Homo sapiens: one gene and its partners. The protein of the gene in region 4 interacts with the protein of the main gene of each other region in a pairwise test. Each region holds a gene or a part of one and is shown on either strand. Other genes may lie near its edges.

What was found.
Region 1: the proteins of GMCL1 (region 4) and MORF4L1 interact in binary tests that used the Homo sapiens proteins (3 or more experiments, as listed by UniProt).
Region 2: the proteins of GMCL1 (region 4) and EHHADH interact in binary tests that used the Homo sapiens proteins (3 or more experiments, as listed by UniProt).
Region 3: the proteins of GMCL1 (region 4) and HYKK interact in a two-hybrid assay, tested with the Homo sapiens proteins (2 studies listed by BioGRID).

The regions. Positions count from the first base shown.
Region 1 is NC_000015.10:78,889,798-78,893,933, reverse strand, and holds part of MORF4L1 (mortality factor 4-like protein 1), read right to left. Parts: intron 2,946-4,136; coding exon 2,920-2,945; intron 2,451-2,919; coding exon 2,362-2,450; intron 1,723-2,361; coding exon 1,621-1,722; intron 396-1,620; coding exon 307-395; intron 1-306. UniProt on the Homo sapiens protein: Component of the NuA4 histone acetyltransferase (HAT) complex which is involved in transcriptional activation of select genes principally by acetylation of nucleosomal histones H4 and H2A.
Region 2 is NC_000003.12:185,189,580-185,192,678, forward strand, and holds the end of EHHADH (peroxisomal bifunctional enzyme), read right to left. Parts: coding exon 2,647-3,099; 3' UTR 1,045-2,646; downstream 1-1,044. UniProt on the Homo sapiens protein: Peroxisomal trifunctional enzyme possessing 2-enoyl-CoA hydratase, 3-hydroxyacyl-CoA dehydrogenase, and delta 3, delta 2-enoyl-CoA isomerase activities. Catalyzes two of the four reactions of the long chain fatty acids peroxisomal beta-oxidation pathway.
Region 3 is NC_000015.10:78,534,269-78,537,689, forward strand, and holds the end of HYKK (hydroxylysine kinase), read left to right. Parts: 3' UTR 1-2,377; downstream 2,378-3,421.
Region 4 is NC_000002.12:69,835,529-69,840,070, forward strand, and holds part of GMCL1 (germ cell-less protein-like 1), read left to right. Parts: intron 1-2,018; coding exon 2,019-2,142; intron 2,143-3,928; coding exon 3,929-4,025; intron 4,026-4,542. UniProt on the Homo sapiens protein: Possible function in spermatogenesis. Enhances the degradation of MDM2 and increases the amount of p53 probably by modulating the nucleocytoplasmic transport.

The DNA.
Region 1 (4,136 bases), on a different chromosome or scaffold from region 4:
AAAGGGCATATGAAAGCAGGGTTTGACAAACTAAAGCAATTAAGATGATTCTTACATTTTCAGATGGTTAAATTTTAAATGGTTATGCAAATACCTACATGATAGCTTAAATTTTACCTAAAATATTTACTATCTGGCCCTTTAAGAAAAAGTCAGCCAGCCAACTCCTGTGTCAAAGCAGTGAAATTCTATTTTGCTAGTTTCTGGTGGTATTAATGTTTCGGAGTCAGTACAAGTTTCAGATGACTTATTTAGAAACTTTTTTAAATGTCTTTTGAGTGTCATCTGAAAAATGTATATTCTTACTTATTATCTGTGTTTCCACGAGATTTCTTGTAATTTGCATAATCCTCAAGAATGGAATCCACATTCTTCTTGGCAGGAAGATAAAAGAGCTATGAAGACAAAAATATGCTTAAATATAAGCACTCTCTTTTTTAAAGAAAAATCATACCAGGCAAGTTTTTATACAAAGATCAGGTAACAGTAACAGTATTTCAAATTAGGAAAGATACTATTCAGCACTTAAAACATGGATAATGTGGCTGAGAAACTACAGACAGTTCCCAACTTACAATGGTTTGGACTTAATTTTCCAACTCTCTGCTGGGTTTATTGCGATGTAACCCCATTCTAAGTTATGGAGCATCTATATATTTAAACAGCCAAATGAGACTCTACTAGACAGAACAGCACAGCTTTTAAAAATGTCAATCTGTCACACACACATAACAGACACGAATGTGCCTTTGTGGTACTACCAAGTCATCATTTACTGTTATGCATACTATTTGCTAGATCTAGTCTAAAGCATTAAAATAATTATCTTTTCGTCCTCTCATCAGCATTGTCAAATACAAACTATTATTCCATTAAATGCAAAAACAGAAGCACAAAAAGGCTAAGAAACTTGTCCAAACTCACAAATAATAAGTGATACAGCCATGCTTGAATCTTCGCAGTTTAGCTGTAACTGCATAACCCTCCAAAGGATTCAAATCAGAATTCAAACTATATCCACATACTGTATATGACTGATAGGTCTCTTAAGTCTCATAATCCTCAAGCAGTCCCTAATCATCTCCCCCAACTATCCCTAACCCTACCTATGCCATTTGTTCAAATAGCTTCATTTGTCCTATAAAATTCTCAATTATAGAGTTCAACGATTGACAAACATGTCACTCCATTAAACATCCTATTTCCTGCAAACTAACAATAGATCCAGGCGCTTAGTAAGATTCAGGTTCTTTTCAGGGTCATGAATACCTTGCAGGTGGTGGTGTGTGCTTTCTATGGCCTACCATTAGCAATGACAGTAAGACATATGCTTCTTCACCTTTATGAATTTTCAGAACGAGTTCCTGCCCTAGCAATCTCCAAAAATGAGTTATTTCCACCTTTATCATTATAACCTCATAAAATTTATATGTGAACTTTTATTCTTCTAACTTACTCTTTCTGGTAGTAGTTCTAAAGTGTTCAGCCTCTAAATTAAAATATTATTTTATCAGTCATACCTTAATAATTCAAGTCAATATAACATTTTCCTTTAAAAACTTTTTTTGCTAGCAAGAATGTATCATATAGCTTAACAATCTGGGTAGCTTTTCAAGTTACCTGTTTTTGCCTGGTAATTAAGTCCCAGTCATCAACAAGCCACGGTTTTAGCTCTTCAGGAATCTTTACTTTAACTTCAACTCTGTTCATGAATGTTTCCTCCTAAACAGAAACAGGAGGAGTATTAAAAACCTAACCTTTCTTGCTAAATACCAAACATGGAGGGGAGCTGACTTTTAGAGGCACTAGGGATAAATCTTAAAGTAGCCAAGCATACAGCTGTACTGTCATTTTTTAAAATCATTAATAAAAACGACCATACGCGGTTCGCTGTTGGGAGAAAAGAATCTGACCTGAACTATAGTCTATTTAGTGCATTTTCTTGTAAAGGTAAAAATTCTTCAGTAAGGTTCCTCTTGTTCAGGAAATGAAACACCCTGACTTGATACATTTTAACTTAGTATTTTCTTATTTACCATGGATATCAAAACTATTCCAAACACAACCATCTTAAAGGTACATCTTTAACTCCTAAAAATAAATACGTAACACCAAAGAAATAGTCTTGTAGGTGAACATGAAGCTTACACAACAAATGATCAATTGGGTAGGTAAATCTGGAGCTACAGGTGAAATAAAGATATACAGAAATTTATCCTTTACCCCCAAAAGAGAAAATTTTTAATTTCAGGTATTAACCATGTAAGCAAATCTTGTAGATAATCAAAGCTCCCATGGTTATGTCATGTAACTGAGACTAAAAATCCTAACATGCTATTCATAAACACAAGAAAAACTCACATTTTCAACAGTAGGATCTACCCGGGCCCTTTTCTTCCGAGGAGGCTGAGGGGTCTCACTGGTACTGCCACCATCTCCATTTCCAGGTGCTGTAAATGTTGGCGGGGAGGGGTCTCATTTAGCTAATTTAACAAACTCTATAAGGAAAATAGTCTCTTGACACATTAACCCTTTTCATTATTTCTCCATTACACAGCTGTTACCTCAATCTAAGTTAAAGAATCATATTCCTACCAAAAATACAACTTTCATGAAGAGCTCTACCGAACATTTAGTATAGACAACATTTAGTATCACCATCTTCCATTTATTTATAAATGTTATCTTCTCAGTGGGAGACATTAAGACTAAAGCAGATGAAAATAAATGCTCACAAGTTTCTCCTTGGCAAAAAGAGGTCTCTACCACCATGTACCTATTTTATAACACTGCTGTGAGACTCCTATTTGAGATAATCAATAAACATAAGCTTACTCCAAAATTTCATAGCTTTCAAAATAAAAACGTCAATGTCATAGAGGTAACATAAATTAACGTTAAGAAAGTTAATATTCTTACTTTTCTGTTTGTTCTTTTTCGTTTTCCTAAAAGGAGAGAAAAAAAAGAAAAATAATTATTTCCAGTAAAACTGCCTCTGTTTCAACTCCCTTTATCAGGGTTAAGTTCACAGAGAAATACTAACTTGGATAAAGGATCAGGTGGTAAATATGTGTCCTACTCAGACACAAGGATTTTTATTGATAGTTGGTTAAATTCCCATCTCTCTCCACATAATAGAAAAAAATAAACCAAGCCAGGCGCAGTGGCACATGCCTGTAATCCCAGCATTTTGGGAGGTGAAGAGGGGGTGGATCTCTAGAGCTCAAAATTCCAGACCAGCCTGGGCAACATGGCAAATCCTGTTCTCTATAAAAAATACAAAAATTAACTGGGCATACTGGCAAACGCCTATAGTCCCAGCTACTTGGGAAGCTGAGGTGAGAGGATTGCTTGAGCCCAGGAGGCCAAGGCTGCAGTGAGCCTTGATTGCACCACTGCACTCCAGTCTTGGTGACAGAGACCCTGTCTCAAAGACAAAAAAAAAAGAAAAGCAAACCAAGAACACTTTAGTAAACAACTTCGTTCTTCCAGGGTTATATTAATATATGTTATAGTATATACTACATTATTAGGCCCACCAAAAAAAAAAGGTGTCAAAGGTTAAAATTTTTTTCCAATTATTTTTGTTCCCCAAAATATTTTTAGATTTGTGTAATTTTTTTGTTTTAAGTCTCCTCATCTTGATTATCATCTCTAACAGCAACTTACCTCACGTCACTTATATACTGTCAAATGGTAAATTGCTAATTTTGCTTTATTTATTTATTTTGAGATGGAGTCTTGCTCTGTCTGTTGGGTGATCTCGGCTCACTGCAACCTCCTCCTCCCGGGTTCAAGCGATTCTCCTGCCTCAGCCTTCCAAGTAGCTGGGACCATAGGCACCCACCACCACTCCCAGCTCATTTTTGTATTTTAAGAGACGGGATTTCACCATGTTGGCCAGGCTGGTCTCAAACTCCTGACCTCAAGTGATTCGCATACCTCGGCCTTCCAAAATGCTATTACAGGCGTGTGCCACCATGCCTGGCCTAATTTTGCTTTTTTACATTATTATTTCTAGACCACAAAGGAAACAGTTTATAGAGCCCATGATTATGGATTACTTTCGATGGAAAGATACTATAACACCTGGATTTTTTACTTTTCTGTAGCTTTAAATAATACTTATAAATGTT
Region 2 (3,099 bases), on a different chromosome or scaffold from region 4:
CTGGTCTCAAACTCCTGACCCCAAGTGATCTGCCTACCTTGGCCTCCCAAAGTGCTGGGATTACAGGCATGAGCCACCTTGCCAGGCTGCTCTTGCCATTTTCTATTGGTCCTTAACCTTTACTGGGTCATGATACTTTTTTTTTTTTTTTTTTTTTTTTGAGACAGAGTCTCACTCTGTTGCCCAGGCTGGAGTACAGTGGCATGATCTCGGCTCACTGCAACCTCTGCCTCCCAGGTTCAAGTGATTCTCCTGCCTCAGCCTCCTAAGTAGCTGGGACTACAGGTGCTTCTACCACACCCGGCTAATTTTGTGTATTTTTAGTAGAGGTGGGGCTTCACCGTTTTAGCCAGGATGGTCTCGATCTCCTGACCTCATGATCCACCTGCCTTGGCCTCCCAAAGTGCTGGGATTACAGGCGTGAGTCACTGCGCCTGGTCGGGTCATGATACTTTTTAGAATATGATGTGAGATATGGTACCTTTTCCAAGAAATGTACTCAGATACATGTACACAAACTTTATCATAACATTTCAGGGGTTATTGACTCATAAAACCTATTCATAGACCCTCTAGTTTCAAAATCTCAATCTAGGCCAAGCGTGGTGGCTCACGCCTGTAATCCCAGCACTTTGGGAGGCCGAGGCAGGTGGATCATGACGTCAGGAGATTGAGATCATCCTGGCTAACATGGTGAAACCCTGTCTCTACTGAAACATACAAAAAATTAGGCAGGCGTGGTGGCGGGCACCTGTAGTCCCAGCTACTCAGGAGGCTGAGGCAGGAGAATGGTGTGAACCTGGGAGGCAGAGCTTTCAGCGTGCTGAGATAGCGCCACTGCACTCCAGCCTGGGCGACAGAGCAAGACTCCAGTCAGAAAAAAACAAAAACAAAAACAAAAAAACAAAAAAAACCCCCTTAATCTAGAGGCCACTGTAGGGTGAAAATAAGTTGTAAGAACTCAAAATTAATTCCAGGTTTGAAGAAAAAGTTAGTGGGTTTTTTTTAACACTGATTTGAAAGCAAGTCACTTTGGAGACAAAATTACTACTTTCAGGAATCATTTTTATTGATGTCTTTAATTTCACAAACCAAATTATATAAAATTAAGTAGTACACATTTCAAACATAATAATTGTGCTCTGTACAATTCAAGGCACACTTGGATTTTTTGTTGGTTTTTTGTTTGCTTTTTAACAACGGAAAACTTATACTCCATTCAAGATTTTTCCATCAGAACTTTAATCATTTTATTTGGGTTCACAGGTGAAAATATTGTGAAAGTTCATTTACACCACAATGAAGGATAACATCTTCAGCCCCATTTATTTACTAACAACTTTATTGAGATATAATTCACATACCATATAATTCACCCACTTAAAATATACAACTCAATGGTTTTTAATATATTGTTATGTGACCATTACCACAATAAGTTTAGACCATTTTCATGAACCATAAAGAAATCCTGTACCCATTAGATGAATCCTGTACTCCCCATTCATCACCCCCAATTCTAGCCTTAGGCAACCACTAATGTACGGAAAGTATTTTTTGTAGAGACAGGGTTTTGCTATGTTGCCCAGGCTGGTCTCAAATTTCTGGCCTCAAACAATCCTCCTGCCTCAGCCTCCCAAAGTGCTGGGATTACAGGTGTGAGCCACTGTGCCTGGCCCTTTATTTCTTTTTATGGCTGAATAATATAGTCCATTGTATGGATATACCAGATTTGGTTTATCTATTCATTAGTTCATAGACATTTGGGTTGTATTCAGCTTTTGGCCATTATGAATAATTCTGCTATAAATATTTGTGTACAAGTTTTTGTATTGACCAGCCCCTTAATTTTTAACTACACAAGGCAAAAAGTAAAAAGAGAAGAACTCTTACAACAAAATCATACAAAATATGTTTTGCAACAATTTTAGATTTTTCAAGATTCAACCATTTCCATATGTAACATCACAGAGGCTTGTCATGACAGGAAAACTGGTGTCATTACTCTATCACAGAATTGGGAAATCCTAGAAGGTTAGATGTTCTCTAAGACCCTTCTTACACTAAGTTAACGACTTACTACTTTCTATTATTTCTCCATAAACAGAAGAGGAAAGACCAGAAGAGGAAAGGCTTGCCACACTAACCTAAGTTCCCTGTGCTGGTTTGAAGTACTCAGTTCCCTTACCAATTTCCAACTGTCTTTTTCCTACAACTTTAATGTTTGTTGAGTGTATGTATGATTCATAAGATTTCTGATCAATACTATGTGTGTGACATTGAAAGGAGTCAAAATGAATGTATGACTTAGCTGCATTTATCATTTATTAATTGATGACACATTTATCCAATGATAAAAGCATTTGAGAATCTCAACTTATGCCTGAGCCTCTTTCATTAGCTATTATGGTATTATATTCACACAAGTTCATGCATTGAATTTATCTGATAAGGACAGATTCAGAGGCATAGGAAGCACATTCCTAAAGATTTGACCATTAGAGTCGTTACACAGAAGATTCTAATGATTATTTATTTTGCTTTGTATTTCAGAACAATCTTACTTTGGATTTTTGATTTAATTTCACTGAAATTCAGTCAGCATTACCTGATGCTAGCATGTGAGGCATAATCTGGAAGACTGAATCACAATTTACTGCTAGGGGAGCCTGCCAAGCTTTGCCATTCTTTCAGGGGAGGGTTTCCCTGAGAAGCCAGTTTTTTTAGATAGTCACTTGGCTCCAGTTGGGGAATATCAGGGTTCTGCCTGTAATATTTCTGCAATTTCTCTAGAACTGTGGGCAACCCAACTGTGGAAGCATAGAACATGGGCCCGCCCTTGTGCCTTGGCCATCCATATCCATGTAAATAGACAACATCAATGTGCTCTGGGCTAGCAGCTATCCCTTCTCCCAAGATACGGAATGCTTCATTGATAAGTGAATATAAGCAGCGTTCAAGGATCTCATCCTGGCTAATGGTACGTGGTTCAATGTGATGGGTTTTTCTATACCGTGATAGGAATTTGGAAAGCCAGGGATCAGGTTTGTGAATCCTACCCAATGGCTTGTCATATTGATACCAACCCTTACCTGTCTT
Region 3 (3,421 bases), on a different chromosome or scaffold from region 4:
AGACGGAGTCTCGCTCTGTCGCCCAGGCTGGAGTGCAGTGGCACGATCTCGGCTCATTGCAAGCTCCGCTTCTCGAGTTCACGCCATTCTCCTGCCTCAGCCTCCTGAGTAGCTGGGACTACAGGCGCCCACCACCACGCCCGGCTAATTTTTTTTGTATTTTTAGTAGAGACAGGGTTTCACCGTGTTAGCCAGAATGGTCTCGATCTCCTGACCTTGTGATCCACCCGCCTCGATCTCCCAAAGTGCTGGGATTACAGGCATGAGTCACCGTGCCCGGCCTCCTCATCCCTTCTTATCACACCTGCTATTATAGTGCCTTTCCTACAGAGAGGTCTTTAAAAATATTTGAAAATAAATGCGTGCTAGAAGAAGGGATGGAGAAGGCACACACTAAGATGCTTTAGGAGAAAGCATTGACAGCATTCTTGGAGAAAAAATTTTAACTTGTCTGAGAGGGTGGTTGAAACTGGAACTCCAGAGATAGATGCTGGAAGACCCTGGGAACTGCAAGGAAGCAAATAATGACATCCAGGCAAGGCCACTAACCCCTGAGCTACTTAAATATAATGGTTCCTTTCAGACTGATACCAGGAACCTCCTTAAGCATATAAGCATATATTTTTTAATTCTCTATAATCTGTTTCTTTTTGGATGACTATGAAGTAGATTGGGTAGACTGAAGCTCACTGTATTCTTGGCTGACGGTATCCCACTGTGTTTCCTTCACTGGTTTCTCGTCATGTCTCCTTTAGTATGATTTAGTAAATGGCTGTTTACTATTCTTATGATTTCAACTATTCATTGTCTACAGATGACTCAAGTCTAGAACCCTGGCCATTCAAATACTCAATAGTTATCTTTCTATATATATGAACAGGCATTGATCCTATCTCCATCTTTCTGTCTACCTACCTAGTCTTCCCAAACTAGATATTTCTCTAAATTGTCTTATATGGTTCATTTTTCACTTCTTTGTCCCTCAATTTCATTTCATTTCTTTTTCTTTTCTTTTCTTTTCTTTTTTTTTTTTTTTGGTGGTGGGGCGGCAGGGACAGGGTTTCACTGCAGCCTCAACCTCCTAGGCTCAGGTGATCCTCCCACCTCAGCCTCCCTAGTAGCTGGGACTTCAGGCATGTGCCACCATGTCTGGCTAATTCTTTAATTTTTTGTAGAGATTGGGGTAATACCTATCTCATAGAATTAATAGAGTTCATTGTGAAGATTTCATAAGAGAACAGTGCCAAGTGCTTAACACAGTGTGTGGCACATAGTTAGGACTCAGTAACTATTTACTCAATAAATGAACCATATTCCAGGTTACCCAAACTCAAAATATTGGAGTAATTTTTTGCTTGCCTCTCTTATATTCAGTGAGCCCTACTGGTTTTTAGAATTGTAGAATTTTAGGAATCTCTGTCTTTACTGGATTTTTTGTTTGTTTTGGGCTTTTTTGTTTGTTTGTTTGAGATAGGGTCTCACTCCGTCACCGACGCTGGAGTGCAGTGGTGTGATCACAGCTCACTGCAACCTCTACCTCCTGGGCTCAAGCAATCCTCCCACCTCAGCCTCCTGAGTAGCTGGGACTACAGGCATGTGCCACCATGCCCAACTAATTTATTTTATTTTGTAGAGATAGGGTCTCACTATGTTGCCCAGGCTGGTCTCAAACCCCTGGACTCAAGCAATCCTCCTGCCTTGGCCTCCCTAAATGCTAGGATTATAGGCGTGAGCTATCATACCCAGCCTGTGTTGTTTTTTAACAATATATAATAAAAGCCAACATTTATTCAGCACTGAAGTATTTTATACACATTAGCTCACTTAATTTTTACAACAAACCTGTGTGGGAAGTACTGTTATAATTAATCGTCATTTTCAGATAAGAAAATAGCAGCTGAAAAAGTAAAAATAATTTCCTCAAAGACAGCCAGGGCTTAAATCAGGCCTTTCTGATGTAGACCATGCTCTTCACTACCACAGAGTTCCATGCTACTTTCTCTCCCTCTCCCTCCTCTCCTGTCCCTGCTACACACACACACACACACACACACACACACACATGCACACTCACTCACACACACTAGGAGGAACAAATGAGATCATTCACATGAAAGCACTTATGTTTCTGAAATTTAAGGGACTGTGGTTTTTATCTAGGTTGACCTCTCAAGCTAAAAACTGGGAACCAGAATAATGGACTGAAACTTGGGTTTCACTTCCAGACCAGTGTTGATCCTCTGAATTGATGAAACTGTATAGATTTCCCTCTTGATTGCCCCTGCTAACATGGATTTCCTTTCACTCAATTCCTAATGCAAATATTGCTGACCACTGTTTAGATGTTTACATGCTGCATTACATTGATATTTTACTATTTGGTGTTTGTTCTAACTTGTCTCCAATCAATCAATTTCATGTGGTTTATATAAACTCTTTGGTGGCTGTGATGGTTAGTTTTAGGTGCCAACTTGCCTGGATTAAGGGATACAGAGATAGGTAGTAAAGCGTTATTCCTAAGCATGTCTGTGCGGAAGTTTCCAGAAGAGACTGGCATTTGAATCAGTAGCTGAGTAAGGAAGATCCCCCTCACCAATATGGGTGGGCACCATCCAATCTGTTGAGGGCCTGGATAGAACAAAAAGACAAAGGAAAGATGGATTCAGTCTCTCTCCTGGGACAGCCATCTTCTCTTGCCCTCAGATAGCAAAACTCCAGGTTCTTGGCCTTCAAACTCCAGGACTTAACCAGCGGCCCCTCAGGTTCTTAGGTCCTCAGCCTCAGACTGAGTTACACCATCATCTCCTCTGGTTCTCAAGCCTTTAGACTCAAACTGAAACACATAATTGGCTTCACTGGTTCTTCAGCTTACAGACAGCAATTGTGGGACTTCCTAGCCTCCATAATTTATTTCCATAATAAATCCCCTCCTGTTTATCTACCTATCCATCCTTCCATCCCATTGATTCGGTTTCTCTGGAAGACCCTAATATAATACATAAATTAAATATTTATTTTACTTTACTTTCAGGACCTAGCACCGTGCCAGGCCCCTAGAAGACCCAGTAAAGATCTGTTGAATAAACTGTAAGAATGAACACACCACTACAAGTGCCAGGTCCTGGTCCTTTCAAACAACGTGGAGAAAACCCAGTTCCAGATTTAGGAATCAATACCATATGTCTGGCAAAGACTCTTTGCTCTTGCAAGTGCCTTCTTCTGTTCAGGCTTTTAGCGCCCCTGGACTACAACAGAACTTTACTTTCTGGTATTCTTAGTCTCCCTAACCTCTGCACTTCATATTATGTAGGCAGATAAAAACTCTGGTTACATATATTGCTGTGTGATGACCAAAAAAAATTGTGGCTTAAAACTTTAATCATTTTATTAGCTCATGGTTTCTGGCAGTCATGAATTCAGG
Region 4 (4,542 bases):
TAATTGAGGAAATAGATCTATTTCCAATGTACCTCTTCTTTGAGTAAGAAGACTACGAAGTTGGTTATAGGTGGGGCATGCTTTGTAGAGCAGAGGTTCCCAAGCTTTCATGGATCACAGCACATTTCATATTTTAGTAATTTTCACCCCTGGTCCAAAAGAAATACCTCATAGTTAGGGCCAAACAACCTAATGATAGCAGATTGCATGGTATCTGAAAGATGTTACTGTGTTTCCTTCGAATTTAAAATACTCCACATGCCTCTCTGAGTTGGCTGTGGTGCTCTAAGTTCAGATGGTATCCTGAACTGGTGAATTTCACACACGGTTTGGGAACCATGACTTAGGGTGAATGGATTGGGAGTGAACAGGCCACAGATTCTTTAAATTTCAGAATGAGGATTGCTTTGTCTGGGCACCAGCAGCTACACTACAGCCTTAGATCTTCCATTAGCTTTGTGCTATTTCTAGAAAAACCTTGGAATCTTTTTGCCTCAGTATCTGTACTCTCCTTATCTATACTCTGTGTTCATAGAGTGGAGAAGGCACTAGTTTCCCCATTTTCTGCCCCTCTTCTTACTTCTGCCTTTGTTTCCCTGAGACCTCATCCTTCTTTTCTCCCAAGGGTTCTGATGGGCAGATAAGCTTAGCCTCCATCCTAGTCCTCCATAATGTATTTTTTGGCTGTGGCTGTCACTGTTCTTTTTCATTTGAATTTGTTTTCTAACTTTCAGATCTGTATAAATCTCTCATCAAGTGATGAGCCTACCCTCACCTTTTCCTGGTGTGGACTTATTCCTTTTTTGTACTCTTAATCTTTAATGTAATTTGGGGAGGGATGGGAAGCCAACATGTGTACATTCTGCCGTCAGGAACTGGAAACTACATTGTCTCTTGATTTCGCATCATAACGAGTGAAGTGGATACTATTAATGTCCTCTTTTTACAGCTGTGATAACTGAGCAGCTGGGACTCAAACCCAAGTCTGTTACCACTAAGACATGTGCTGTTTTTATTGTCGGCTAGGAAGAGGTGTTAAGTACACAGGTGTTAAATTCGCCAATTCAGGATGTCATCTGAAACAATTACTTCATTTTTAAAAAGAGATTGAAGGTTTTATGTGCTAGGAAAGCTTTCAGAATTGGTCAGGAATTTAAGATATTGATCAGCCTCTGCCTAAGGCCTTTTCTTAGTTACTGGATCATTTTGAGCAATGATTTTCAAACTTTATTTTTTTAGTCAAGTCTTCCTTTAAATTAAATCTGTGCAGAAATCCAGTATGTTTACAGATAGAATAGGTGATGCTGCTCTGGTTGAAGTTAGATGGGATGCTCACAGTTCACTCCTTAGCTCTCCTTGGTGGCCCCTAAGACTTCTCCTTTGAGCAGTTTTAAAAACCTTTCATCTAAAATAAATAAATAAATAATTTTAAAAAACAAATAGGAAAAGAAAAGAAAACCTTTGATCTAAGGTTGCAAACCGTTTGTCCAGTGGCTGGAAAACATTTTAAGTAGTTTAAGAATAGGTTGGTACCAAAATAAGATTAAATGTAAATTATTTTAAAATTACTTGGGTAGGTGAAATGTTTACTCTTGTTCTCCATTTCCTACTTGCAGATTATTGCGCTATTTGAGCTCCTTCATAGTGCTGGTTTCTAAATAAGGAAATAAGCAAAAAATCAACATGCTAACTTCTTAATCTATTGAATGGGTAATTAAATTAGTCCAAAATTGCTAAAACATGTGTAGTGAAAAGTCTGCCTCCCATGCTGCCCCCCTTTCTCCACTATCTCTCCCGTGCATAGAGGACCCCAGAGATAACCACTATTATTAGTTTCTTATGTACTCTTCTAGACACAAGAAAATTTGAATATATACTATCTCCCTATCCTTTTACACAATAGGTAAGTTGACTCTATTTAATAGAAATTGAATAAAAGGAGTATTTAGAAATATATGCAAAATCAGTAAAACATTCAGTTTTATATAAATATGTGACTTTTTCATTTCTTTTAACAGGAAAAAATTAAAGAGTACATCTAAATATATTTATCAAACATTATTTTTGAATGGTGAAAACAGTGACATTAAGATTTGTGCTCTAGGAGAAGAATGGAGCTTACACAAAATATATTTATGTCAAGTAAGTATTTTTTCTATTTGAGTAACAGGGTAGTCACTGAAACTCTTAAGTCATGTTCTTCCTCATTGCACTTCACAGTAATCTTTTGCATGAACACCATAGTGGTTAAATCCTCTCATTTGATCAGTCTGTAAGAAAAATGGCAAACATTGTTAGTGAAAACTAAGTTTGGTCTAGAAAGAGATTTTGATATTTCAGTATCAGACTAGCCTAATACTACGTATTTGTCATTACTTCATAAAATGCTTTTTTCGGTGCCTTCTGTTGATAAAAGGGGAAAAGTTGGGGAAAAAATATTTAACATTAAAGTTAAGATTGTAGTGTTTATTTTGCTTATGGTTATTTAAATTGGATAAACTCATCTGAAATGTTGCTTTGTAGTTCACATTGAGTGTGAATAGAAAGTTCTCTCCTGAAAAATGCAGGTAAAGACAACACCAAAAAGTATATAGACTAAGTAGATTTCTGTACTGAAAATATTACTACCTGCCACCCCACTTTAAAAATTCAGAACTTTCATAGCTGACGTGGTGTTGGGCACCTGTAATCCCAGCTACTCAGGAGGCTGAGGCAGGAGAATTGCTTGAACCTGGGAGATGGAGGTTGCAGTGAGCTGAGATCGTACCACTGCATTCCAGCCTGGGCAACAGAGCGAGACTCTGTCTCAAAAAAAAAAAAAAAAAAAAAAAAAAAATCGGAGCTTTCAAAATAGAATACAATGTTGCTCTAATGGCCCAAATATTTTATTCATTTTCTTTCATCAAATCTATAAGCTAGGTATTGTTTGAGGCACTAGAAATAAAACAACAGTTTTTATCCTTTGGAACTTACATTTTTCCTCTTTACCATTTGAGAATAATTACTGGTAAGACAGCATAGTATAAAATTTTTCAGTAAAAGTATTTGAAAATGAATTGCCTTCTCTAACATTTTAATCATGTTTTAAAATGTGTTTTTGAAACAAATTTATTTTGGCTTGAAGTATGTTGCCCAGATACTATATCAGAATATTGCTTTTAACTTCAGGGTATGATTCATGTTGTTTCTTTTTAATATCTGAAAGCAGTTTTGTGAACTTGAGGGTAAGAATACCTCTGTTAAAACTTTACCCCTCGTGGAAGATGTATTATAATTCAAGCCACATGCTAAAATATAAGCCCCCTGAGGACAGAAACAATATCGATTTTGTTTATTGCTATATTCACAGTGCCTTCTACATACTAAGTACTCAGTAACATTTTTAAATAAATTAGTTAATATTTGATCCATTTCAAAGTAATTCTAATTATGAGGAGTGCTATCTGGCAGATACCTAAAGACTTCATTCTGTACCTTTCCAAGAATTCAGGTCCATTCTGGACATTTCTCATTAAACTAAATTTTGGATTTTCCCTGGTTTCTTTGGCGATCATCCTGTTTTTGCTGACTTGGGACTGGTTTGGTCCTTTATAGCCATTCAGGTGTACAGTAAAGATTCAACAGTTTGAGTAAAAAGCTAACCAGGTTCAAATAATATACATGAATTCAATTTAGATAGTAATATAAGAATTTTAGTTTTTTGTCAAAAATAGTACTAAACCAAAAGTATATTTTGATACACCTAATAGTGTCCTTATCTTAATTTCTTTTCTCCTGTGGACATATTTGGCAGTTCTTTTTCTGTTGAAGTAATAGAATGGATGAGTTTAGTTAATGGATAGAATAGTTGCTTAGAATTAGAAATGGGCAAATAATTTGGAAGACACAGAAAGTACTTGATAATCGTTGACTTTTTTTTTTGTTTAAGTCTGGCTACTTTTCTAGTATGTTCAGTGGTTCTTGGAAAGAATCCAGCATGAATATTATTGAACTGGAGATTCCTGACCAGAACATTGATGTAGAAGGTAACTACCACAATAATTACTATTATGCAACAATCGTAAAAACATAATCTTATTCTTCTGGTAGAAGATAAATAATTCCTTCCAGCCTTGTAGTCTAGAAAACTCCTTTTATCACCTCAAGGTGATAATTTGATGTTGATTTACACCATAGTTTATCAGTTCTGTCCATCTTATCACTAATCTGTTTTGTCATTTGGGCCTTATCAGTTTGTTTACTTATCTTTGTAAATATGCCCACCTGGGATATGGAAGATGTAGGATGGAGGAAGGAAAAGTATGACCATTTTTTTTTTTAATTACATAGAAAATCTGATAAATAATACTGATTATTCCCTATGTATGAAGATGTTTTCTGGGAACAATAAATAAAAATATTGTTTTAGAGCTAAAAGAATCCTTAGTTGAGGAAGCTGAGGCTCAGAGGAGTTAAGGGACTTATTTTGGATCTCAGAGCAGTTTAGTGAGCCTGTGTCAGACTACAGCTCTCCTCATTCCCATTCCAGTGCTCTTGCTGCTC